Homo sapiens: one gene and its partners. The protein of the gene in region 4 purifies or fractionates together with the protein of the main gene of each other region. This does not show direct contact. Each region holds a gene or a part of one and is shown on either strand. Other genes may lie near its edges. The genes, in order: SLAIN1, SCML2, HMMR and POTEB3.

Region 1 (7,029 bases), on a different chromosome or scaffold from region 4:
CACTGCAGACTATAGTGTCCCAGTAGTGTGGTCTCAGAAATAAGAGTGCTGTTCATTTGGTTCCCTGATATGTTTGCAGGATGGCAACTTATTTTTATTTCCTGTGTTTATTAAGAAACAACTGGAGTGGGTATATAGTACCTTATTTTAAAAATATTTAAAACTACAAGTTTTACATGCTCATTGTAAAAAAACTAAAACATAGATGTAGGTATAAGGTCACAAAAATTATCTTCCTTGTCCCCAATTTATTACCGTGACTCAGAATTCACCCTGTTAATACTCTGCAGCTCCTTCAAGATAAAAAAATATAATTACAACAATCAATATACAAACATATACACATCAGTTTTTTTTAACACTTGCCTTTCATTGAACATACATTGGACATTTGTGTATTCATGTGACATCACATCTCCCAGTAACAAAGGCATCATTATTAGAGTAACAATATTAAGGAACAAGTTACTGTTAACTGTATCACCTACAGTTTTTCATGCATTTTTTATTGTGATTTCATCCTAATGGGTTGAACAAAATGTGTTTGCTTATTTATTTAGAATAGCACTTCCTGCTAAAAATGTCATAAGTTCAGGAAAGTTTACAAATGTAGATTAATCACTGGATATTTTAGCTATTCTTTTATGTAAGTATATCTTTTCTAATAAAACCTTAGAATACATTATTTTCCTTTTATTAACAACTTGGACAATATTTGGGTTAAGAGTTATGTGTGTAAGGAAAATCATGACTAACAGAACCAATATTTTCTTTATGATAGTTCATTAGTTAATGATTAACCAGGTCTTTGAGATCATTTTTCTGAATAATTATTTAACCTATAAGTAGTATCTTAAAAAAAACAGCTTTAAAGAGAATGGAGTGTTATGCTCTCCCTTTTGACAAAAAAGCTTTGATGAAACAATTTTCTTATTTCTTTGAATATTTATCTTAATTGAATTTTAAGTCTTGAATGTTGCCTTAATACTACCTGATTATCTTAGCACAGTATTGCTGGAATTAAGTGTCTCAGAAAGTTAAAGTTGATGGCAATTCCAGAACCTGAATTCTTTCTTTCTTTCTTTCTTTCTTTACTTATTTATTTATTTTTTATTATTATACTTTAAGTTTTAGGGTACATGTGCACATTGTGCAGGTTAGTTACATATGTATACATGTGCCATGCTGGTGCGCTGCACCCACTAACTCATCATCTAGCATTAGGTATATCTCCCAATGCTATCCCTCCCCCCTCCCCCCACCCCACTACAGTCCCCAGAATGTGATATTCCCCTTCCTGTGTCCATGTGATCTCATTGTTCAATTCCCACCTATGAGTGAGAATATGCGGTGTTTGGTTTTTTGTTCTTGCGATAGTTTACTGAGAATGATGATTTCCAATTTCATCCATGTCCCTACAAAGGACATGAACTCATCATTTTTTATGGCTGCATAGTATTCCATGGTGTATATGTGCCACATTTTCTTAATCCAGTCTATCATTGTTGGACATTTGGGTTGGTTCCAAGTCTTTGCTATCGTGAACCTGAATTCTTAAGTCATCTTATAGCCCTATAGTAAAACTCTCATCCTGCTATACTGATTCCTCAGTTATCTTACTAATTTGATAGGCTTAGCTCTCCAGAAGGCCATTGGCTAGAAAGGAAAAGGGAAAAGTCTGAGTATCAGGAGCAAATAAAAAGCTCAAAGGGACTAAAATATCCATGCATACATGGGACACAGTGTGATTGGATGCTTTTTCTATCTTTATGGAAGAAATGTTTTTAAGATTTATATTTGTCCTAATGTCACCAGGCTCTGCAGCACCAGAGTACAAACAGAGTAATTCAGATTGGTCTGAAGTGGCAATGGGAGCCATTAGCTAACTGCATACTAGACCTTCCTATGACCTGTTTCAGCCCTCTTATTTCAGTGTTGAGGGACGGGAGCTCTGAGGCAAAATGGCTTATGTAAGCTCTTCTAGTTACTGATAGAGTTCAGACTAAAAATCAGATTATTTGTCCAGATTCAGAAGTGTTTACATCACTGATATTTTTTTTTCCCCAGAGCTAGCTGTGTAACTCATTAGTAAGTTTATAAAGTCAATTTAGTGGATTGACCAGCATTTTAAAAAAGTGAAGTGCAGTAGAATAGAAAATCAGAGTTTATCACATCTTATAATACAATGCTTGCTTTGATTAAATATGTTTTAGTTTTATAGATGTGGAAATATTAAACGTATTTTTGCATTATGATCAAAGTTAACAAAACTCTATACTGTTTGAAAGCAAAACGGAGAAAGCAGGTGGAAAAGCACTGAAGATAGTATAGTACTCTGAAGGGAAGTTAGGTCTTGCACACCTCAACCAGGAAGATGGTTCTATATGAGAAAATGCCACGATAAAAATAAGTCAGCCAATATAAAATGCAGCCATATAAGGAGGCTTTATTTTAGTAGAATGACAATTAACAGAACATTGAGACTATATAAACAGGATGTGGCAAGGATTTTTAACTTTCCCAACTGGGAAAGACAATGGAAAAGTTGTTAATTATACAAGGAAAAATGGTGACTTGTACAAATTAAGAAAAATTTAATGAATGAGATATTCATCTTCCACATGTAATACCAAGACCCCAGACAGCTGGCTAACATCATTGCCAATTTTTCATCAAAGCTGTTGAACACCTTGTGCTATACATATGGCACAACTAAATTAGACCACCTAAACTGTTTTTTGCATAATTGATTTTCAGTGAAAAGACCAGAGGGTGCTTCCCTTTTTGACAGTGCTAATTGAAAATGTACAATGTTTTCTAGGAGCAAATGGAGTTGACTGAAGTGTATGACGTGTGTTTGAAATAAGTAACTTTTAAATGTTGAAGTGAGGTGCTGAAGTAGTTTACCTGCAACTGGGCGAGGCAGGGTTGGGGGTGGAGGGAAAGTTTGTTATAGGACAGCTTAGTAAGTAACGCTTGAACTTCATGTATCCTTTTAAGAGCCTGTTGGAACTAAGTATTGTAGTGGCTATCTAGTTTGATCCTAGCAGGTGCCAGTGACTCAAACACTGTTACAGAGAACTAAAGATTCGTTGATCGTGCTTATTAGTGTTGATGTTTCAGCTTTCCTTAAAATAAAACTTGCAGAGATTGAAGGCTCTTAAAATTATTTGTCTGAAAATTACCACATATTACTTTTCAGTGGCAGGTCTAAAAAAAAAAAATTATATATATATATATACACACACACATATATATTTTTATATGTGTATATATACACATATAAAATATATATACATATGTTTTATATGTATATATATACATAGAAAATATATATACATGTTTTATATGTATATATATACATAGAAAATATATATACATGTTTTATATGTATATATATACATAGAAAATATATATACATATGTTTTATATGTATATATATACATAGAAAATATATATACATATGTTTTATATGTATATATATACATAGAAAATATATATACATATGTTTTATATGTATATATATACATAGAAAATATATATACATATGTTTTATATGTATATATACATAGAAAATATATGTACATATGTTTTATATGTATATATATAGAAAATATATACATAGGTTTTATATGTATATATACATAGAAACTGTATATACAGAGGTTTTATATGTATATATACATAGAAACTGTATATACAGAGGTTTTATATGTATATATACATAGAAACTGTATATACAGAGGTTTTATATGTATATATACATAGAAACTGTATATACAGAGGTTTTATATGTATATATACATAGAAACTGTATATACAGAGGTTTTATATGTATATATACATAGAAACTGTATATACAGAGGTTTTATATGTATATATACATAGAAACTGTATATACAGAGGTTTTATATGTATATATACATAGAAACTGTATATACAGAGGTTTTATATGTATATATACATAGAAACTGTATATACAGAGGTTTTATATGTATATATACATAGAAACTGTATATACAGAGGTTTTATATGTATATATACATAGAAACTGTATATACAGAGGTTTTATATGTATATATACATAGAAACTGTATATACAGAGGTTTTATATGTATATATACATAGAAACTGTATATACAGAGGTTTTATATGTATATATACATAGAAACTGTATATACAGAGGTTTTATATGTATATATACATAGAAACTGTATATACAGAGGTTTTATATGTATATATACATAGAAACTGTATATACAGAGGTTTTATATGTATATATACATAGAAACTGTATATACAGAGGTTTTATATGTATATATACATAGAAACTGTATATACAGAGGTTTTATATGTATATATACATAGAAACTGTATATACAGAGGTTTTATATGTATATATACACACATAAAATATATACTTGTGTGTATACATATGTGACTGTACCATTTGTTTTTTGTATTATCTGCAAAAAGATGACTTTAGAACCAAATATTTTGAGAATAACTGAGACTTTGTTTTCCAGACAGTTGTCATACTTCATTGGAAACATTCAGGGTTATCATGGGCTTTATATTATTTTTGTTCTCCCAGCATAGAATGTGATGTGTATGGAAAAGAAGGGGTTCTATGAGAAGGATAGTAGTTTCTGGTGTGTGTGGTTTGGAAGCAATTTAAGAAAAGTTAAAGAAAATTAGAGTGACATTCCAAATAGTAGTTTGAAATGTATATTTCAAATATAATTTGAAGAATTCTGAAAATTTAGATTAAGACTTTTCAGATGCTCTTGCCAGAATCCAATATACCATTAATGAAACTACTGAAGTTGAAAAAAATGTTTATAAGTCACTAGAATGTATGATGTACTAATGATGGCCAGATAGGACATTGTAAATGTTACTTGCATTCTAATGACATTGAATAAAGTGATTTTTAAAATGACTTTTTGGAGGGTTAGAGCTATATAGGAGAAATACAGATTTTTTTTTTTTTTTAAAAACCTTGCCTATCTAATTTTGGAGCTGTGTTGTACTCAAGGAGTTTTTAGCCACATGATCTCTATAACTAGTTTTTTGTATTATCTGCAAAAAGATGACTTTAGAACCAAATATTTTGAGAATAACTGAGACTTTTTTTTTCTAGACAATTGTCATACTTCATTGGAAACATTCAGGGTTATTGTGGGCTTTTTCTTTCTTTAAATCCAGCTCTAGGCCAAGTCATAGAAACACTAGGCTCAAAGCTATCCTGCTCACTGTCAGGAGACTGACTCTGAAAATGATCACTTCTGTCTTAATGCCATACATTTGTATAGCACCTCAACAGTTTTATCAAAATAATATAATAACATGTTAGTAGTTTTCAAAACTCCCCTTGTTAGGCTTATTACAGGAAGCAGTCCTCTACTCCCTCCTCCTGCTGAGTCCTTCACATAGGCATCACTTTATACTCTACTAGCTGTTTCTTTTTCCTAAACAGTCTTTATACTTTTATGATCTTAGACATCTATGGACTTATTATGAAAGAAGAAAACTTAGCTCTCTTCCTCTCACCCTTGACTACCATATCTCTTTTCCCTTCTCATAATGGTTTTTATGGTTTTTCTTTTATATTTAATGTCTGCATTATGATTATAATTTACTAGCTAAGTCCTGTTAATTGCATGTTAAACATGTATTTTCTCTGACCCCTTTGTTCCTCCAAGAGTTAGTAATGGCACTTCTTCTCTCCTCTTCACTTTCTTTAATTACCTATCAGAAATTATTTCCCCAAACACGCTAAAGGAGCCATAAAATCCCTCATTAAGGTCATACACATTTGGCAGTCTGTTAAATCTGCTTTTTTAAAATTTATATTGTAGTGCTATCCCCTCTGAAACTCTTAATCTCATTGCTCTAGTTTTTACTGTTTGCCCCCTAAGCTGGATGCATACTGCTGTTGCCATGGGAACTCTTTCAGTTTCTTGGCAATGTGGATTCCCTTCTTCTTAAATCCTTTTCGTTTGTATTTTTTTTATTCTCTTAGGTGGGGCACAGCCTTCAATAGCTTTCTGAGAAAGGAGACCTGCAGGAGAGGCACACTTTGAGATCCTGCGTATTTGAAAATGTCATTGTTCTGCCCTTACATAAGATTCATAGTTGGACTGGCTATAAAAGTCTAAGTTAACCTTTCCCTCATGTTTGAAGGCACTGTTCCATTTTGTTCTAGCTTCTGTTATGTTCTAGCTGTTGAGTGCACTGTGTTTGGATATCTAATCCTTTTTGACTTTTTCTTTTGCTTCCTTTATTCCTAGTATTCTAAAATGTCATGTTGTACCTTGGTATGGGTTATTTTATTTAATATACTGGACATTCGTGCACACTTTCACTCTAGAATTGCATGGCCTGACTTCCACTCTGGAAATTTTCTTGCTCTTTTTTTTTTCTTCAAAATAACTTTCCAGTTTCTTTCTTTTCTTTCTTTCTTTTTTTTAAGAACTTGTAACAGACAGATGTAGGTCATTCCATCTGGCTTAATCACTTGATTTTCTTATCTGTCTTATCCCATTGCTAATCTGTTTTTATTTTGTTTTCAGGAGACTTCTTCAACTTGATATTCCAAACTCATTTACTGACTCTTTTGTTTTTGCTATGATAGTTTCATTTCCCAAGCATGAATAAACTGTTTTTTTCAATATCCATGTGTATGTGTGTGCTTGTGTGTGTGTGTGAATGTAACATTTTCTTTTAGATGATATAAATTATATTCGTCTTGACATTTTCATCTGTTCCCTGCATTGTTTTTCTCTTTGGTTCTCTTTACTCCCTCTACTTTTAGTCTCAGTGTTTCATGTAAAAGGAATATTTCACATATTTGGTGTCACTGGTTGTCTGTTCATACCCAAAGGAGGTGCCGAAGCCGATCTAAAGCTCTTAATGGATGGAGCTCCTTGGTGCAGTTTACTAGTGATTGGATGGGTAGCCAGGCCACATTCAAGCATCTCTAGGTCTTCTCTTGGATTCATCTTTTTCTCTATGCATAAACCTTCT
Region 2 (7,029 bases), on a different chromosome or scaffold from region 4:
TAGTCACCTCTAGTCTTTTTTTTTTTTTTGCCTGGTTATTCTGTCTGCCATTTTTCTCCCTCTATTCTCATTCCACTTGTGAATGGAAATCGGAGGTCCTCTCTATTAGCTACCCTCTCGGGGTGGGGAGGGTAGGTCTCACTGTCTCCTCATAGTCATATTCCTGATTTTTAGGATATACAAGAACAAAGTGGGCTCTGCCAGCTATCAGCCTTAGAGCTATGAGCTGTGGTGCAAAGATTAGTCTGTCATTGCCAGAAGGTGTTTTGTAGTTTGCAGTGGGCAAATCAAGCATCCCTAATAATTTTAGAACCATTATTAATGTCTGAGAATTACTACATAATACCTTAGAATTTGAACTGATTGTTGATTCCAGGAACTAAAAACCTGGACATTTTGAAAATGGCAAATGTTGGTGATGTTTTTTTTTTTTTGAGATGGGCTCTCGCTGTGTTGCCCAGGCTGTAGTGCAGTGGCGTGATCTCAGCCCACTGCAGCTTCTGCTTCCTGCGTTCAAGCAATTTTCCCACCTCAGCCTCCTGAGTAGTTAGGATTACAGGGGTGTGCCACCATGCCCAGCTAATTTTTGCATTTTTAGTAGAGACGGGGTTTCACCTAGTTGGCCAGGCTGGTCTCAAAACTCCTGACCTCAGGTGATCCTCCTGCCTTGGCCTCCCAAAGTGCTGGGATTACAGGTGTGAGCCACCACGCCCGGCCGTGTTGGTAATTTTGAAGGAAGAGTTTATACCCTTCCCTGGCTTTGGGGCTTAATATTCAGGATCTCTTTGTCTTGGGGAAATAGATAAAAGAAACCACTGGCGTTTATCTTAGATTAAAATGGCATAATTTATACCATTATATAAATACTGGTATAATTTAGTGGTAAGTACATTTTTTAGACTCTAAGTACCTTAGGCTTTGGTTACCATTTATAAAAAGAGTTTGTGGTAGTTCTTTTTTTGATACGGAGTCTTGCTCTGTTACCCAGGCTGGAGTGCAGGTGCAATCTCGGCTCATTGCAACCTCTGCCTCCTGGCTTCAAGCAATTCTCCTGCCTCAGCCTTCCCAGTTGCTGGGACTACAGGCATGTACCGCCACACCCAGCTAATTTTTTTTTTTTTTTTTTCCGAGATGGAGTCTCGTTTTGTCACCCAGGCTGGAGTAGAGTGGCACGATCTCAGCTCACTGCAACCTCTGCCTCCCAGGTTCAAGTGATTCTCCTGCCTCAGCCTCCCAAGTAGCTGGGACTACAGGCGTGCGCCACCGAGCCTGGCTAATTTTTGTATTTTTAGTAGAGATGGGGTTTTACCATGTTGGCCAGGCTGGTCTCAAACTCCTGACCTCAGGTAATCCATCCACTTCTGCTGCCTCTCCAAGTGCTGGGATTACAGGCATGAGCCACCGAATCTGGCCTTTGTTTTTTTTGAGAGTCTTGCTCTGTCTGTTGCCCAGGCTGGAGTGCGGTGGTGTGATCTTGGCTCACTACAGCCTCTGCCTCCTGGGTTCAAGCAATTCTTGTGCCTCAGCCCCTGAGTAGCTGGGATTACAGGCGTGCATCACCATGCCCACTAATTTTTGTATTTTTCATAATTTTTGTATTTTTAGTAGAGATGGGGTTTCACCATGTTGGCCAGGCTGTTCTCGAATTCCTGGCCTCAAGTGATCCTCCTGCCTTGGCTTCCTGAAGTTCTGGGATTACAGGCGTGAGCCACCTCGCCCTGCCAATGGTGGTTCTTAAAAATAACTTGAAAAAATTTTAGAAGCTATCAAGATTTGAAATGTGTATGTGTTCTTTGGTTTTCATGAGAAAGGCGATTTTGTTTATTTTGTCATTATGTTGTCTATTTCTAGGGTTACCTTGGCAACCTTAGAAATAATACTGGGTTTTTTTTTGTTTGTTTTTTTTTGAGACGGAGTCTCGCTCTGTTGCCCAGGCTGTAGTGCAGTGGCACAATCCTGGCTCACTGCAACCCCCACCTCCGAGGTTCAAGTGATTCTCTTGCCTCAGCCTCCTGGGGAGCTGGGATTACAGGCGTGCGCAACCATGCCCAGCTAATTTTTTAAAAAATAATTTTAGTAGGGACGGGGTTTCACCATGTTGTTCAGGCTGGTCTCAAACTTCTAACCTCAAGTGATCCACCTGCCTTGGCCTCCCAAAGTGCTGGGATTACAGGCGTGAGCCACCACGCCCAGCCTGGAGAGGTGTTAACATAAGCAATGGAGATATCTTATTGTGTGAAAAGTGAAATATTTGAGGATCCTGTAGCAGTGAATATGATGGTGCTGTTCATCTTAATATCATGATCATTTGACCTAGACTACATGAATTCCTTATTTGAAGAGTTAAAACTTATAGAATAAGCTGTGAGTAAAGACCTGGGAAACTGAAGATAGCATTTGATTACCTACTACTTGTGACCTGTGTTTATGGCTATGGCTCTGCCTCTTCCTAAGTTTATAGGAGCAAATTGTTTTAAGAGGGGAAAGAGAGTGCCCACTTTTAGTGGTAACGTACTGTTGTAAACTTCAGAAGGGACAGATATATTACAATTCTAGGGCATACCTTGAAGATGCTTTCATTTCTCAGAGAAAAGTTTGCGGGGCTCTCTTTGGTTGTGTTTAGAATACACATTTGATTTTTCGCAACCTCTGTTTCTCATAAAGATTAACTGGTGGCGAATTATAGACAAACAGCTCCATTTGTTTGGTATGTACCTTATAGCCTTGACATAGTTTTTTAAGTGTATTGACAAAGTGCTTGTTTTTTTTGGTTAACATTTGGCCACTTTTCCTACCTTTCATCAGTTTTAGCTGGTTTAAGGTTTGATTATATATTTATTTTTAAATGCTGAATCAAATGTGTTTCTTCTTTTCAGTTCTCTTCCTCTTTGAATACATTTGGAAACATGTGCCCTTTGCTATGAACTGTTGCTTTTTTTTCTTTGGAAATATTTTTTAAAATGTTATTTGGAGTATTTTTCTCTTTAATGTTATTTGAAAAGCAATATAGTCAGTATTAATTTTTAACTAACTTGATAGAGTTTCATAAATCTGTTCAAATGAAACACGGCATCTTTGGTCATTAAAAGAATTAATATATAGTAGGCAATAGTAAGTATATTTAGATATTGTTTGGTTTTAGATTACTTTAGAGACTCTGATTTGAGATTTTTTTTGTGTTGAAATTTGAGAAGTTGTAGAAATATTTGAATGGGTAATTTGCTGACACCTGCCTCATGTTTGAGGTATTTTCAAGGATGTTTAGTTTTCTGGTTTCTTCAGATTGTGGTTTATTGCATGCTTTTCTGCAGTCTGTTGTCTAGTGGGGATTGTTGTTGTCATCATTTCCATTATTTCTTGTAGGGCCGGTGTTAGAAACCATAAATCTAGACTGCAGTGATAATAGGAACAGCCTGTAACCAGATCCAGTTCTTTTGTCAAAAAGTTGCACCATTAGCTGCCTGTAGTATATTGACATGCCCTGCCATTAACTCAAGTCCTTCACAAAAGTCAGTGGGTAGCAGGTCTTTGGGCAGTTAGCCTGTAGCTGTGCTTTAAAACCTCAGGAATTTACAACTATAAACTGGGATTTTGGCAACCCTTGACTTATCTTTCGTTTATCTGTTTTCTGACATGACATACTTCTTCACTAAATACATAGCTTTCACATAAATCATTTTGAAATTGCAAGTGATTAACTTACAGGTTTTTTGGGGGGTAACTTAAATTAGAAATTTTTGAAAATAGTTAAGCCTTCTTAGGTTTGTTTTGACACAGAAAAAGATTAATTACTAATTTGTTGGGGTGGACTCTTTACTAAAGCATAATTTAAAATTGCTCCTTTAGAAACCTTAATTTCCTCAAGAAGGCTTGATTTGATAAATTATTGCTACCAAAAATGTTCTTTGATTTTTTTTTACAGATTTCAGAAATATGGAGATGAAAATGTTCTTTTTTTTTTTTTTTTTTTTTTTTTTTTTGAGACGGAGTCTTGCTCTGTCACCCAGGCTGGAGTGCAGTGGCATGATCTCGGTTCACTGCAGCCTCTGCCTCCCAGGTTCAAGCAATTTTCATGCCTCAGCCACCCGGGTAGGTGAGATTATAGGTGTGTACCACCGCAGACGGGGTTTTGCCATGTTGGCCAGGCTGGTCTCGAACTTCAGACCTCAAGTGATCTGCCCACCTCGTATTCCCAGAGTGCGGGGATTACAGGCATGAGCCCCTGCGCCCGGCCTAAAAATGTTCTTTTTTTTTTTTTGAAATGGAATTTTACTCTTGTCACTCAGGCTGGGGTGCAATGGCACTATCTTGGCTCACTGCAACCTCCCCCTCCCAGATTCAAGCGATTCTCCTGTCTCAGCCTGCCAGGTAGCTGGGACTACAGGTGCCCGCCACCACACCCGGCTAATTTTTGTATTTTTGGTAGAGACGGGGTTTTACCATGTTGGCCAGTCTGGTCTCAAACTCTTGACCTCAGGTGATTCACCCGCCTCAGCCTCCCAAAGTGCTGGGATTACAAGCTTGAGCCACCGCACCCGGCTTGTTCTTTCTTAATATTGATTAGTCTTAATTCAGAGATAGAATTTTAGTTTTAAATGTAATTACAGTATTAGAATTTAGTGTTTTTCTGATTACTTTTATAACTATGTCAGAAAATGTGACATTTGATTATTTACTTGAGTGAATTGAATAGATACTTGTGGAATCTTAATGTGATGACTCATGTTCAATTCCACAAAATTATGTATGGTTATACAATGGAATATACACTTTTTCTATCCTGTATTAGGATAATCACTATTACCAGAAACAAAATCTTAGTTGAAAGAGAGAGCTTCTCTTGGTCAAAGAAAAAATACATAACTACAGTGTATTTTAATTAAATCAGTATTTTTTTTTGCATTTAGGCATAAATGTGAAGTACTTCTTGAAACAAAATAATAAACTATTTACAAGTTAAAAACATAAAGGTGTTATTTTATGCAGTTAACTCAGACCTTCCCCTTCACAATAAAGGACAGCGTTTTTGTTTGTTCAAGTCTAAAAGTAGTGTCTTTATAACAAGATAGATTTTAAAAGGAAAAGAACCCTTTCTACCTGTGCTATTTAATTAATCTCTGGTAAATTGTGTATGTATAATAACTTCCGTCACTTATTCCAACATTTTCTTTAAAACACCAGCAAACGTATTTGTGAATCTCTCTTATCCTTGAAACTTCTTATGCTGTTGATAAACTCAAGGGGCTATGATGAAACATTTTTTTCAATAGATTATTTTGTGAATAGGGACTTGGCTTGTTGTTTCTTTTTTTGGTGAATATTGGTTTAAAGCACATGTTTTAGTTATACCTGTTATGTAGTTGGCATTTATAAACTGAATTCTATAATGGTAACTCATACGGAGCCTGACTTTTTGAGACCATGAACATCCTAGAAAGAGATAAAATTCAGAGTAAAAAAAAAAGGCCAATCAACTTCTGGGAAAGAGAGAGATATTGGAGGTGGGGGATTGTCTCAGATCTCACAGAATTTTCTCCTTGGCCCATTGACTTAGACTTGTGTGTAAATTAAGACAGCTGATTTGATATTGCAGGAAAGAACAGAGAACAACAATGATGGCCAAAAGAAAAATCTCGGCCGAGCGCCGTGGCTTACGTGAGCCTGTAATCCCGGCACTTTGGGAGGCTGAGGCAGGAGGATCATTTGAGCTCAGGAGTTTGAGACCAGTATGGGCAACTTAGTGAGCCATCGTCTCTACTAAAATTAAAAAAAAAAAAAAAATTAGTTGCTGAGCTTGTTGGCACATGCCTATAGTCCCAGCTACTTTGTGTGTGTGTGTGTCGGGGGTAGGGGGTGTGCAGGGGGTGTGCTGAGGCAGGACAATCACTTAAGGCCGGGAGGTCAGGCTGCAGTGAGCCCTGATTATGCCACTGAACTCCAGCCTGGGCAACAGAGTGAGACCCTGTCTCAAAACAAAGAATAAAAGAAAAATTTTATCAAAAAATTGTTTTAGTCCATGTGTGGTGGCTTACACCTCTAATTCCAGCACTTTGAGAGGCTGAGGCAAGAGGATTCATTGAGCCCAGGAGTTTGAGACCAGCCTGGGCAACATGGAAAAACTCTGTCACTACAAAAAATACAAAAATTAGCCAGGTATGGTGGTGTGTGCCTGTAGTCCCAGCTACTAGGGAGGGTGAGGTGGGAGGATCACCTGAGCCCGGGGAGGTTGAGGTTGTAGCGAGCTATGATCACTCCACTGCACTCCAGCCTGGGTGACAGAGAGACCCTGTTTCAAAAAAAAAATTGTTTTTAAAAACCACAGTATTCTGGTTCTATATAGTTTAGATACAAGCAGCCTATAGCACAGCAGAGTTTACTCATTCAGCAAACATTTTGGGGACCCTAGTATGTGATAGACACTGTGCTCGTTATTCTGAAGGATATAAAGAAGAACGAGATGTGATACTGCCCCCAGGAGCTTATTGTCTAGCACGGGAGAAAAGGCACTTACACAGTTAAACACAACAAAGGCAGTTTTAGCACAATGGTTAAGCATTCATGAACCTAGATTCAAACCTAGCTGGGTGATCTTGGGCAGGTCTTTGAGCCTCAATATCCTTAACTTTCAAATGAACATTAATGGACATTAATAACAGTATCTACTATGCAGGCTTGTAATAAGCTTTAGATAAGAAAAAATACATATATAAAAGCCTTAGGGTAGGGTACCAGGCATTCATTAATAGCAAGAGCTCAGTAAGTAACAGATCTGAGTAGTAGTATCACCACTGCCAACACCATTATCATTGAATCTCTGGGAACATAACTTTTGTTTTCTCCTGCCCTCATGGATCCGTTTTGTCTAGGGTATCTGGTATATTATAATATCTCCTTGTATTAGTCTGTTTTCACGCTGCCGATAAAGACATACCTGAAACTGGGCAATTTATAAGAAAAAGAGGTTTAATGGACTTACAGTTCTACCTAGCTAGGGAGGCCTCACAATCATGGTGAAAGGCATGTCTTACA
Region 3 (7,029 bases), on a different chromosome or scaffold from region 4:
ATGTTCATCTCAAAACTGTCGTTTGCTCAGTTGCCTGTGTTCCTTTGACCCGGTTGATATAAAGGGCAAGATGATATTGTTCTTCATAGAGAGGCCTTCTTTGTAATATCAAATGGATGCAATTTTTTACATTTAAAAAAAGCAGTTTGTTAATGACATTTTTACATTTATATTCACTTTATTATGACATGTTTTAACTTAAGATCATAAGTAACATTAGATAATATATTAATGTTTTCTATTTCCTCTAGGTTGTGCACCATCTCCAGGTGCTTATGATGTTAAAACTTTAGAAGTATTGAAAGGACCAGTATCCTTTCAGAAATCACAAAGATTTAAACAACAAAAAGGTAATATAGATCACCAAAGAACAATGGTTATGTGATCTTATAAGTTTTAAAGTTATGAATAACAATATTTAAAGATGTTATAGCATTTTTTAAAATGTGAAGCTAGAACTATATTTAAATTTTATTTGATGGATTTATGAAAGGGTCAAGTACAGAATAATGCTGTCATCATTACATTGTTATATAACCAGGAAAATTAAGCAAGATACTTATATTGATATGTAGCTTCCCTTTTGGTAATTACCTTGACTTGTCAGGGAATATTAGGAAAATCAGAAAGGTGTTAGATGTGTAAAAAAATTGTATGAGTAATTATTTGAAAATGTACAACTAAGGAAAGAATATATTGTTTCATCAAAAGTTGTAATTAGAAATTTGGGGCCGGGCAAGGTGGCTCGTGCTCGTAATCCTGGCACTCTGTGAGGCCAAGGTGGGTGGATCACATGAGTTCAGGATTTCGAGACAAGCCTGGCCAACATGGTGAAACCCCATCTCTACTAAAAATACAGAAATTAGCCAGGTGTGGTGGGGTGCGCCTGTGGTTCCAGCTACTAGGGAGGAAAGTGGGAGAGTTGCTTGAAACTGGGAGGCAGAGGTTGCAGTGGGCTGAGATGACACCACTGCAGTCCAGGCTGGGTGACAGTGAGACTGTCTCAAAAAACAAAAACAAACAAAAAGAGAAAGACAAAAAAATTTGGAAATTGTGTTTTGTGTGTAGTTAAAACACATTGACATCAACCATGATCTGTACAATTCATTTTTCCGCAGAATCTAAACAAAATCTTAATGTTGACAAAGATACTACCTTGCCTGCTTCAGCTAGAAAAGTTAAGTCTTCGGAATCAAAGGTGAGGAGCTTTTATATGCCAGCTGGTTTATCAAGTGTATCATCAAAAACATCTGAAAGTATTGTATTTGATTAGAATGGGTTAAGTGTATGAATCAAGGTTATAAGTAAATCTGTAAATTAATGAAATGAGTTATCATTAGAACTCTAGCAAGTTTTACATTTCTGCCTAGGTCATTATGTTTAAATGTGCCCTTAGTTCACAATTATAATGGTCTTCAATTCTCAATCACTTCTATGTTTAAATTGTTCATTACCTAGTAAACATTTCAAAATTATGTGATGCTTTGATTTATTAAGTACCACCATTTGAGTTGTTTTGTTTTTGTGTATTTGTTTGTGGGGAAGGGTAAGTGTTTTTGAAGAAAAGTGGGAAAAAATGCCAATATCTAAGAGAGGTTTGCTACTGAGAAACTGTTAAGGAGTGGTGAGAGATTAAATTCTTAATAGTCTTGTGGCTTGTGCAAGAGCTACTATTACTCTTTTCATAAGTTTATAAACAGGCAAGCTGCATAGTACTTTTTAAATTTTATTTATGTATTTTTTTTTTGAGATGGAGTATCACTCTGTCACCCAGGCTAAAGTGCAGTGGCGCCATCTCAGCTTACTGCAGCCTCTGTCCCCACAGGCTCAAGCGATTCTCCTGCCTCAGCCTCCCCAGTAGCTGGGATTACAGGCACGCCCCACCACGCCCAGTTACTTTTTGTGTTTTTGCTAAAGACGAGGTTTAAACATATTAGCCAGTTGGGCAGGCTAGGCTGGTCTTGAATTCCTGACTTCAGGTGATCAGCCCACTTTGGCCTCCCAAAGTGCTGGGATTACAGGTGTTGTCCACCACACCCAGCCGCCATATAATACTTTTTAAAAGACAGCTGGGGGGCGCACAGTGGTTCACGCCTATAATCCCAGCACTTTGGGAGGCAAGGCAGGTGGATCACTTGAGGTCAGGAGTTTGAGACCAGCCTGGCCAACATGTAGTCAAACCCCATCTCTACTAAAAAATACAAAAATGTGCTGGACGTGGTGGCACGTGCCTGTAGTCCCAGCTACTTGGGAAGCTGAGGCAGGAGAATTGCTTGAACCTGGGAGGCAGAGGTTGCAGTCAGCCAAGGTGGTGCCACTGTACTCCAGCCTGGGCAACAGAGCGAGACTCAGTCTCTCCAAAAAAAAAAAAAAAGACAGCCGGGCACAGTAGCTCACGCCTGTAATCCCAGCACTTTGGGAGGCTGAAGCAGGTGGATTGCTTGAGGTCAAGAGTTCGAGACCAGCCTGACCCACATGGTGAAACCCCGTCTCTACTAAAAATACAAGAAAATTAGCCGTGTGTGGTGGCACGTACCTGTAATCCCAGCTACTCGGGAGGCTGAGGCAGGAGAACTGCTTGAACCTAGGGAGGCAGAGGTTGCAGTGAGCCGAGAGATTGCACCACTGCACTCCAGCCTGGGCAGCAGAGCGAGACCTATCTCAAAGATAAAAATAAAGTAAAAAAGTTGTACAAATTAATAGGTTTTTTGATGTGAAAAATATTCAGAGTTGGAAAAAGGCTTAGGTTGTTCATTCATTTGGCAGTTGCCTAAGCCTCATATTCTGTAATATAGAGCTATGTTGTTCTGTATGGAAGCATAGCCACATGTGTCTATTGAGCAACTGAAATGTGGCTAGTGCTATTAAAGAACTAAATTTTTAATATTTAATTTTAATTAATACATATTTAAAGACATACTCGATTTTGTTAGTGGAACGCTTTTAAATATTTTTGGAACAACTTGAGTATGTGAATTTACTTTCTCCTTTCTATGTTTTATGAAATTAAATATACATAAACATTTCTGATGAAAATTTAGCATTGAATTAAGACGTGCTATAAGTGTAGAATACAAAGAAAACTTTAAAGACTTAGTACAAAAATATAAAACATCTCATTGATAATTTTATACCAATGACATGCTGAAAAAATATATTTGATATGTTGGGTTAAATAAAATATATTAAGATTTTTACTTTTTAAACACACTACTAGAAAAATTTAAATGCATAGGTGGCTTGCATTATTTTTATTGGGCAGGACTATTATAGACACTCTTTTCTTAGAAATTGATGTAAGTGGTTTGACTTAAATTTCTTGAAGAAACTGTTCTGTAATTTTGTAATTTATAAAGCCCCTTAGAAAACTAAATTACATACAAGTTTGTATGGAGCCCCAAAATAATAGTCCTTCCCCATAAAAAATTTCATGGAGTGTGAAATTAATAAACATGACACTGATGTCACCCCCACCTCCTGCCCCACTTAGAAACATCTGAAACAGATTTCATTCAAGATGTTGATGCCTTTCTTCCATTTTTAGATGGAAAAGATATTCTTTTTCTAGCCATTGTGTCAGAAAGTCTGTTGGATATAAAAAGATATAGTGTGAAAATTATATGTCTTATTTAGAATAAAGCCAATGAGAAAATTAGAATCAGAGCTTATGCTGTTTCAGTTTTTATTTCTTTGCATCTGTATATTTTCCTCTTCGGGTATCAAAGTTTAAGTCGATTTCTCTTTGTAAGATTCTTTCTGAGATAGCATAATTAAATATTCAAGATGTGTTGCTATTTAACATTAGAGGGAGGCAGTCAGTAGCTTTATTCATAAAGTTCCACCTGTTCTTTTCACTGGGCTGATTAGGAAAATCCTGATTTATTGGGTTGAAAATTTCTAAACCTAAAATGTCTTGAGATTTTTAGAATATTTTATTTATCAGATGAGTGGCCTACACAATGTTTAACAGTGTAATGTTTAAAATAGAAACTAACTGATTGGATCCCTTCATCTTTTCTGATAACTGAAAAACAAATTTGGCTGTCATATCTGTGACATCTAAATTTGCTTATAAGTTTTTTTGGCTTTTAAACAGAAGGAATCTCAAAAGAATGATAAAGATTTGAAGATATTAGAGAAAGAGGTAAGCAGTGCTTTAAACTTAGTGAAAAGTACACATGATAGAAAGAGAGTTACACAGATTTAAGAGATAAGGATTCTGTTGCAGTGTGAGGAGTCCTGCAGTGAGGCAAACATGCCATCCAGAACAGTGCCTACAGGAAAACAGTTCTTACAGTATTTCACAGATCTATCCGGGCTATGTTAATGTGGTATGCTGGCAACGCCGAGATTAAAGATAGCCCACTTAATGAAAAACTGATAACTGAAAAATCATTATGTCAGTTGATTACAATTATATATGTGGATCAAATATTTATATCTATCCATCGTTCACAGTCTTCCTGTATGCTAACTTATGTTAACACAACATAGCTAGAGGATTTCTTAGTGAGCATGCAATCCTAGCTGGTTAGACTGTGATGAAGTTAGGCTAACTCGATGCATTGCTCTGCACAATAGGTATAGGCCTTCCTCATGGGTGAAATAACATAGAGCTGTGCTGTTTGATATGGTAGCTACTCACCACATGTGATGATCTAAATTAAATAAGAACTCAATTCCTCAGTTGCAATAATCACATTTCAAGTGCTCAGTAGCCACATGTGATTGGCAGCTACCATACTGGACAGGGCATTTCCACCATGACAGAAATTTCTATTGAACAGTACTAACCTAAAGAACCCATTTACTTTCCTAGCAATGCTAAGCAGCTCACTGTGAACTTTGCTTCTCTGCAGTCTTTTTTTTCTGTTTCCATTGCTGACCAACTCTTTTCCTCATGGATATATTCTTTCAATATATTAAAATCTTTCATTTGATTACAGTCGAATGTTGGCTTTCAACCAAGAGTATGTCAGAGTAACTGTAAATGTCTGCTCAGTTGCTCTGATTCTTTTTTATGTATTCTAATAATGTTAGCTATCATTTTACTGAGGGTACATGTAGGGGTTGATACTTACAGGAATAATCACTGAGTCTCAGTGAGATAGCTGGTAAGTGAGTGGTAGAGCCAGGATTAGAACTAATAATTTACACCAGTGACTTCATTGGGTATAGAATTTTAGGGTGGCAGGTTCCCCCCCATTATATTAAAAATATCATTTCATTGTCTTTTGGCTTCCACATTTTCTGTTGACAAATATTGGTTTGGGTTTTTTTTTGTTTTTTGTTTTTTTAATCTGGTAATAGCAGCAAGAATGATGGCTTGCCAATGCCTAGTACATTCTCCTCAGAAGCCCAGCTCTGCCTTCTTGAAATAAAAAACATTTAGCATTTTAAGCTAATTTGAATTTGTGTAATTGAAGCTAGAGAAAATAACTATTATAGGTGGAAATACCTTAAAAGTGAATAAATAGCGGCCGGGTGTGGTGGCTTACACCTGTAATCCTAGCACTTTGGGAGGCTGAGGCGGGTGGATCACGAGGTCAGGAGATCGAGACCATCCTGGCTAATATGGTGAAACCCCGTCTCTATTAAAAATACAAAAAATTAGCCGGGTGTGGTGGCCCGTGCTGGTAGTCCCAGCTATTCGGGAGGCTGAGGCAGGAGAATCGCTTGAACCCAGGAGGCGGAGCTTGCAGTGAGCCGAGATCGTGCCACTGCACTCCAGCCTGGGCAACAGAGCACAGAGCAAGACTCCATCTCAAAAAAAAAAAAAAAAAAGTGAATAGATAGCTTAATTGTACTTGGAACTTATGGCAACTAAAGTTCTTATGTTCTTAAAATGCATTAAGACTTTTAAGATGTATCATAGGTAAATATGATTATTCAAATAGCTAGTAACATTAGAATATCTACAAGCATAATGTCAAAATCAGAGATTTTTCCAGAAACTTTAGGGGTGATTATTGGTAGCATCTCCTTATGTTGGCATTCTATCAGTGAATCATTTATTATCACCTTGTTTTTGTCCAGATTCGTGTTCTTCTACAGGAACGTGGTGCCCAGGACAGGCGGATCCAGGATCTGGAAACTGAGTTGGAAAAGATGGAAGCAAGGCTAAATGCTGCACTAAGGGAAAAAACATCTCTCTCTGCAAATAATGCTACACTGGAAAAACAACTTATTGAATTGACCAGGACTAATGAACTACTAAAATCTAAGGTATCTGAGCCTCATGATAATATTTACAATTGAATAAATATAAACACGTTTTTTAGGGCCGGGCACGGTGGCTCACGCCTGTGTTCCCAGCATTTTGGGAGGCCAAGGCAGGCGGATCACCTGAGGTCGGGAGTTCGAGACCAGCCTGACCAACATGGAGAAACCCTGTCTCTACTAAAAATACAAAAATTAGCTAGGCCTATTGGCGGGCGCCTGTAATCTCAGCTACTCGGGAGGCTGAGGCAGAAGAATCACTTGAACCCAGGAGGTGGAGGTTGCAGTGAGCTGACATGGCGCCATTGCACTTCAGCCTAGGCAAGAGAGTGCGACTCCATCTCAAAAAACAAAACAAAACAAAACAACATACACCAGGCGATTCAGATTCATTTTGTTAAGCAAACATGTTTCAAGAAATCCTTTCTCAGGGACTTGCTTTAGAGTCTTGCAATGGACTTTCCAGCATATAGAGGTAAGTGACCACCCAAACAACCTTTCAAAAATGAACCAACAGGCCAGCCACAGTGGCTCACACCTGTAATTCCAGCGCTTTGGGAAGCTGAGACGGATGGATCACTTGAGGTCAGGATTTTGAGACTAGCCTAGCCTAACATGGCGAAACCCCATCTTTACTAAAAATACAAAAATTAGTCAGGTATGGTGGCGTACACCCGTAATTCCAGCTACTCAGGAGGCTGAGGCATGAGAATAGCTTGAACTCGGGAGGCTGAGGCATGAGAATAGCTTGAACTCGGGAGGTGGAAGTTGCAGTGAGCAACACGGCACTCCAGCCTGGGTGACAGAGTG
Region 4 (7,203 bases):
AATAAGTAGACAAGTGCATTGAAAATTGTAAGTGTGACAGAAAGGTCACCACTTGATTGCTACTATTATATCGTTTTATTATTTTGTTCTCCCAACAATGTATAGCTCAAATTTATACTACAGGCTGTTCATATCCCTTAACAAAATATCCATTAATTTATGAATTTGATAAAATTCTAACTTACTGCAGTGCCCTACAAATAATAGTTTGGCCCATCTGTGGTGATGACTGTTCTGGAAGATCTTTCTGATGTTGAATAACTAATATTGTGTTTCAATGTTACTATTAGGTTGGTGCAAAAATAATTGCGATTTTTGCCATTAATCACAACTACATTTGTGCGAACCTAATAGTAATTTAACATTCTGTATCTAACATTTGTGGACACTGATCGAATATGCAATATTCTGGGGAGAAGTTGGTGGAAGAGATGTGTGTTGTTTTGTGAAAGATAGTATTCTGAGGGAAGGCAGAAAAGGGATATACATATAAGAAAATAGTGGATCTTGATCAGATGCACACTTGTTCCTATTTACAAGAAGTCTACTCTGTGTTACTGAACAAATCAACTTACATGAAGTCAACTAATTCCAAAGAATTTACCGTCTAGAGAAATTCACATTTGTAATAATAAATACTTTTCTTAATGACAGAAATTTTATAATATGTCTTTTTTACTTTATAGCTATAACCGTAGAGTTATAAAATCTAAATACAGACAAGCCTACCCAGTGTTTGATTATATTCAATGATGTTTAAAAGTAATGGCCTCTCTTTTGTTCTTACTGGGAAAATTATCATTAGCACAGTGCTTCATGCAGGCTCTTATTACTTCTATCTCCCATTGTTATGATTGGCAAAGCACAAAGCCATACTCAAATTGGAATGCTTGGGCACATTGCAGTATTTATCACAGGGTGGACTGGATACTGAGTTTCTTAATTTATAAATATTTCTTTCCAATGCAAAATTCATGAAGGCTTAATGTTGGGAAATGTCTGAATGGCTATAAATTCCCTTCCTAATTCCCTCCCCTCAATGCATACCCATTTTTTTTTGGCTCATTCTTAGAACTGTAGCTGTTCTTGAATCTTTGATGAGTTGAAGCTAATCCACATTCGGATTTTACAATCTCATATAATTGCCAAAATTCTACCCTTCAAAACACTTGTTTCTTTCTTTTTTTTCTCTTACATTTCCTCAAAGAAAATTAGTGAAAAAACAATTTTTTATTTGGTCTGAAACTTTATGGTGGAAATCTGAGGACAGGAAGAAATTTAGGGACTTGTTCATGCACTTTTGATTTGGCGAATGCCTGGAATATATTTTTTTCTCTCTGCACAATGCAAAGTAGTTGCACTCACAAAGTATCAATTAGAAAAAGAAATTCTTTCCACATTTCATCAGAGTTTTAAGTGGTTACACCACAATAATCCCCAGCTATTTGGGAAATGGTAAAAAAAAAAAAAAACAACTTTGAAGATCAAGCCATCATTATTATTTTCACTAAAACCTAAAAATTCAGCCACAATATGTCAAACCAGTTGGGACAGGACTTCCTTCCACTAATTTAGTTTTTACTGCTGGATACCTGATGGGCTACTTACTATATCAGGTGTCTCATAGGGCAAATTGTACCTGGAGATAAAAAAAAGAAGAAAAAAACAGGCTCCACCCCCTAGCAGCAGAATACAGCAGAACATTTAGGTACCCACAGAACATAAACCAAAATGGACTGTATCCTGGATTTTAACAAACATTAAGAATTTTTTAAAAACTGAAATCCTGTAGAATGTATCCTCCAGCCAAAATGGCATCAAATTAAAAATATAAAAGTAAAATAACAGCAGAATCTTAAATACTTGAAAAATAAACAGCATACTTTTTTAGTTCTTTTTTTTACATTTTTATTTATTTTAAGTTCTGGGGTAGGTGTGAAGGATGTGCAGGTTTGTTACATAGGTAAATTTGTGCCATGGTGGTTTTCCCTACCTATCAACCCATCACCTCGGTTTAAGCCCAGCATGCATTAGAGATTTTTCCCAATGCTCTTCCTCTCCCTCCCCCATCCACAGGCCCCAGTGTGTGTTGCTTACTTCCCTGTGTCCATGTGTTCTCATTGTTCAGCTCCTACTTATAAGTGAGAACATTAGATGTTTGGCTTTCTGTTTCTGCATTAGTTTCCTGAGGATAATGGCTTCCTGTTCCATCCATGTCCCTGCAATGGACATGATCTCCTTCATTTTTATGGGTGCATAGTATTCCATGTTGTATGGGTACTGCATTTTCTTCATCCAGTCTATTACCAATGGGCATTTAGGTTGATTCCATGTCTTTGCTATTGTGAATAGTGCTAAACAGCAAGCACACTTCTAAGGAGAACGTCTCAAGGGAAACAATTAAATATATTAAACTGAATAAAAATAAAAATACAACATATCAAACTTGATTTAACACAGTTGACGTCAGTGCTGAGAGGAAAATGTATTTCACTAAATATATATAATAGAAAAGTAGAAATCTCTCAAATAAAAATTCAAGCTATCACATCAAGAAAGTAGAAAATAGTAGCAAAATAAAATCAAAACAAATATAAGAAAGAATATAATAAGGATAAGAGCAGAAATAAATGAAACAGCCAAAAGAAAACAACAAAGAAAAGCAAAGAAATAAAGCTGGTTCTTTGAAAATATCTATAAAATTGACAAACCTTAACTAATAATGATAAAGAAAAAAGGGATGTCATAAATTACCAGTTTCATGAATGCAATGGGCTAACATTAGCAGTAGAACTCAGCAATGTACACAAAGAATTACACAGCATGTCCCAGTGACGTTTACTCCAGTGACTGCACACCTAGACATTCATCCCACTGAAATAAAAACTTTTTTTTTGCACTTGCAATTGGCTTCCCCTCTGCTTTTGTTGGCAAGAGCAGGTCGGTGTCCCAGGCTTAGAATCCATTTTTCTCTCTCTCCGTCTGTCTCTCTGTCTCCGTCTCTGTCTTTGTCTCTGTCTCTCTCTCTCTCTCTTTCTTTTTTTGACAGAGTCTTGCTTTGTCACCCAGGTTGCAGTGATGCGATCTCGGGCTCACTGCAAGCTCCGCCTCCCAGGTTCACGCCATTCTCCTGCCTCCCGAGTAGCTGGGACTACAGGCGCCCACCACCATGCCCGCTAGTATTTTGTATTTTTAGTAGAGATGAGGTTTCACCGTGTTAGCCAGGATGGTCTTTATCTCCTGACCTTATGATCCGCCCGCCTCAGCCTCCCAAAGTGCTGGGATTACACGCGTGAGCCACAGTGCCCGGCCAGAATGCATTTTTCCTCCCACACCAAAGCACCTGCAGTATGGGTGAAGCAGCCTGGAGCCTGGCTGCATAAGCCTGCACAGCAGGAGGGTCCCAGCAGGAGGGTAGAGGTGCCACTGCCTGGGTCCAGCTCACAGGCTGCCAGGGAGGCTCCGATCTGGCTCCCTGGTGCTGGCAGTGTCCTGTTCCCAGGATCTGCACGTGGGGGTGCCTTCCTGCATCTCCCCATCAGTGGTAGGTGCTCCTCCCAGCCCCCTCTTGCAGGCCTGGAGACAGCGGCCTGCACCTCAACCCTACTGCATGCCAGTGAAGCGAAGCACCCCGGGCCAGAAGCCCCACAGCTGTTGGCCCTGGTTTGGACACCAGGCAGGGGGCACCACAGCAGGAGCTAGCAGCCCAGCCCCGATTCTGTGGCCCCGAGTGCCCCGTTGCTGATGGCCCTGTGTTCTGGGTGCGGACCAAGGAGGAGCAGGTGTGGAAGGCGCCTCAGGCAGGCCCTGGGCTCCGTGGGCGTCTTGTGCTCGGAGATTTTGAGGCCATTTGCATCCAGCTCCGCCAACCAGAGCTCTAAGCTGCAGCGGCGGCCACCCGCAACAGCGCCACCACTAGTGTCTTGGGGGCTTTCTTCAGAGGAGGCTGTCAGCATCCTCGAGTTCCAGGCGCTCTAGCCCCAGTCCTGCTTCAAGAGGCTTTTTCCCACCACAGGCTTCTCTCCTCAGTGGCCAGAAAGCTGGGCCAACTCCCATGAACTTTGCCAGTAACGCAAGGCTGTCACTGACATTTGTGGCGCCAAGACTTGCGCACGCGGATTGCACACATCGGCCACTTCCTGGACCACGTGCAATGACACGCGCACGCCTCACGCACACGCCGCATAACGTCTGAGGCGCGCGCCCCGCACGCGCGCCCCGCACGCGCATAACGGCTTGGCTTACCTGTAACGGGTACACTTCGCTTCGCGTTCCTCGCTTGGCCTTGCGTTCCTAGCTTGGCTTGGCTGTTAGTAGCTTTGCCTGGTGTTTCTTGCTTGGATTGGCGTTTCCTCCCTCGCATTCCTTTGCTGGACTTGACCTTTTCTCTGCTGGGTTTGGCATTCCCTTGACTGGGCTGGGTGTTTCCTTGGGAGGGGGGGCTTGGCCTTTCCTGGGGTGGGCGTGGGGTCCCCCTGGTGGGCGTGGGCTTTCCCCGGGTGGGTGTGGGTTTTCCCTGGGTGGGGTGGGCTGGGCTCCCTTGCTGGGCTTGGCAAGTTTTGGCTGGGATTGACCTTTCTCTTCAAACAGATTGGAAACCCAGGGTTTCCTGCTAGTTGGTGAAACTGGTTGGTAGACGCGATCTGTTCGCTACTACCGGCCTCCCCTGGCTGTTAAAAGCAGATGGTGGCTGAGGTTTGTTCAATGCCCGCTGCCTCTGCTGTGAAGAAGCCATTTGATCTCAGGAGCAAGATGGGCAAGTGGTGCCACCACCGCTTCCCCTGCTGCAGGGGGAGCGGCAAGAGCAACATGGGCACTTCTGGAGACCACGACGACTCCTTTATGAAGACGCTCAGGAGCAAGATGGGCAAGTGTTGCCACCACTGCTTCCCCTGCTGCAGGGGGAGCGGCACGAGCAATGTGGGCACTTCTGGAGACCATGACAACTCCTTTATGAAGACACTCAGGAGCAAGATGGGCAAGTGGTGCTGTCACTGCTTCCCCTGCTGCAGGGGGAGCGGCAAGAGCAACGTGGGCACTTGGGGAGACTACGACGACAGCGCCTTCATGGAGCCGAGGTACCACGTCCGTCGAGAAGATCTGGACAAGCTCCACAGAGCTGCCTGGTGGGGTAAAGTCCCCAGAAAGGATCTCATCGTCATGCTCAGGGACACTGACATGAACAAGAGGGACAAGCAAAAGAGGTAACCGGGCCTGGGATGGGAGGAGGCGGGACATGGGGGGATGATGGGGACATACCCTCCTGGCGCAGGGAGGGAGGAGCCAGGCTTTCTCTTCCTCCGCAGGCCCCACACCACCCTGGGTGTGGAAACCTCAGAGATGTCAGGGCCCAGGTCCCTTTATAAACAGCAACACAAAAACAAAACTTTAGCTGATTTCCAATCCAATTATAATTTCCCTTATAGAACACTAATAGACGGTTTTAAAGTGATTTAACTCGCAAAATTAAGTCGATGCAGCAGATTATTTTTAATGTACACATTTTAAAACAATGTTCTATACACTATAGAAAGGTGTATATTGAGAACTAAGTCCCATAATATATCAACTTCTGGGCTAAATATTTTTCAAATAAAATCCAATATGGATTTTATATCGATGTGTACCCTATGTAAACACGTTCTTTACTGAGTAACCTTAAAAGGAAACTGAAATGGGAAGTATGGTTCATATCTTTGAATAGGAAGGTTCGTTTTTCTTAAGATGTGAGCTTTTTCTGTGTTTATCACTTTTACATAAGCCAAATAAAAATAGCAAAGTCTTAGTGTCTTTAAATTGCACATGATGTATTTTATCATTGTGATAAATTGATTTTTTGTAACAGAATGGAAAAAGACTTGCTTTTCCAGATATCAAAATGTGCGTGTGTTATTTCCACAAATTGTTTACTAACAGCTGAAAAGACATAAGTGAACAGAACAGAATAGGAAATCCAGAAATACCCAAATATATGTAAGAATTTAGCACTTGATAATGGTGATGTTTCATATTGGTAAAACAAGGTGAATTATTCATAAATTAAATGCATGCTGTTTGGAGAAAACTACCTAGATTTTTATGTCACAAAAATAAGTTCCTGGAGTATAGATTAAAAATTTTAAAGATACAAAAGGAGAAAAGTACCAGAAGAAAACACAAATGCCTATTTATATGTGCAAATATTTATTTATTTTTCTGAGACAGACTCTCACTCCATAGCCCAGGCTGGAGTGCAGTGGTGCAATATCAGCTCACTACAACCTCTGGTTCCTGGTTCAAGTAATTCTTTGCCTCAGCCTACCAAGTAGCTGGGATTACAGGCACCCACCACCATGCCTGGCTAATTTTTTGTGTTCTTAATCAAGACGGGATTTCACCATCTTTGCCAGGCTGGTCTTGAACTCCTGTCCTTGTGATCCACCCACCTCAGCCTCCCAAAGTGCTGAGATTACAGTCATGAGCCACTGAAACCGGCATATATATGCAGATATAATAAAATAAGCTCAATTTAAAATTGGGCAAGGTACTTTTTTGCATGTCTACCAGTGACCTGTGTACATAGGAAAACATAGCATTCCTGCTAAGAGAAGGAATTTAAGTTAGAAGAGGAATGAAAGACTATTTTCTGTTTAAGTTAGAAGAGGAATGAAAGGCCAGCCATGGTGGCTCATGCCTGTAATCCCAGCACTTTGGGAGGCCAAGGCAGTTGGATCACGAGGTCAGGAGTTTGATACTAGCCTGGCCAGCATGGTGAAACCCATTTCTACTAAAAATACAAAGAATTAGCTGGGCATGGTGGCATGCACCTGTAATCCTAGCTACTCAGGAGGCTGAGGCAGGAGAATTGCTTGAACCAGGGAGATGGAGGTTGCAGTGAGCTGAGATTGCACCACTACACTCCAGCCTGGGTGATGGAGTGAGACTCCATCTCAAAAAAATAAATAAATAAAAATAAATAAATAAATATAAAGGAATGAAATACTGTTTTGTGTCCACAAAGTTTGTGAGGGTGAAGAACAGTGGTACTTATATACCTGCTGAAAGTTTAAGTTGCTGCGACTTTTCAAATAGACACTTTGATGGTAAGAACCACATTTTTAAAATGTGTATGCCTTTTACCCATCTGTTCCATTATACCGAAATATCTATATGAAACAGACACAGCTGTTTTTCTTAGTATTGCTTAAAATAGCCATGTATTGA

The links.
Region 1: the proteins of POTEB3 (region 4) and SLAIN1 purify together in Homo sapiens (co-immunoprecipitation; 2 studies listed by BioGRID and IntAct, with this or other methods). This does not show direct contact.
Region 2: the proteins of POTEB3 (region 4) and SCML2 purify together in Homo sapiens (co-immunoprecipitation; 2 studies listed by BioGRID and IntAct, with this or other methods). This does not show direct contact.
Region 3: the proteins of POTEB3 (region 4) and HMMR purify together in Homo sapiens (co-immunoprecipitation; 2 studies listed by BioGRID and IntAct, with this or other methods). This does not show direct contact.

What each region holds. Positions count from the first base shown.
Region 1 is NC_000013.11:77,700,665-77,707,693, forward strand, and holds part of SLAIN1 (SLAIN motif-containing protein 1), read left to right. Parts: intron 1-7,029. UniProt on the Homo sapiens protein: Microtubule plus-end tracking protein that might be involved in the regulation of cytoplasmic microtubule dynamics, microtubule organization and microtubule elongation.
Region 2 is NC_000023.11:18,344,675-18,351,703, reverse strand, and holds part of SCML2 (sex comb on midleg-like protein 2), read left to right. Parts: intron 1-7,029. UniProt on the Homo sapiens protein: Putative Polycomb group (PcG) protein. PcG proteins act by forming multiprotein complexes, which are required to maintain the transcriptionally repressive state of homeotic genes throughout development.
Region 3 is NC_000005.10:163,463,605-163,470,633, forward strand, and holds part of HMMR (hyaluronan mediated motility receptor), read left to right. Parts: intron 1-251; coding exon 252-350; intron 351-1,118; coding exon 1,119-1,198; intron 1,199-4,096; coding exon 4,097-4,144; intron 4,145-6,036; coding exon 6,037-6,225; intron 6,226-7,029. UniProt on the Homo sapiens protein: Receptor for hyaluronic acid (HA). Involved in cell motility. When hyaluronan binds to HMMR, the phosphorylation of a number of proteins, including PTK2/FAK1 occurs.
Region 4 is NC_000015.10:21,437,492-21,444,694, reverse strand, and holds the start of POTEB3 (POTE ankyrin domain family member B3), read left to right. Parts: upstream 1-4,195; 5' UTR 4,196-4,683; coding exon 4,684-5,204; intron 5,205-7,203.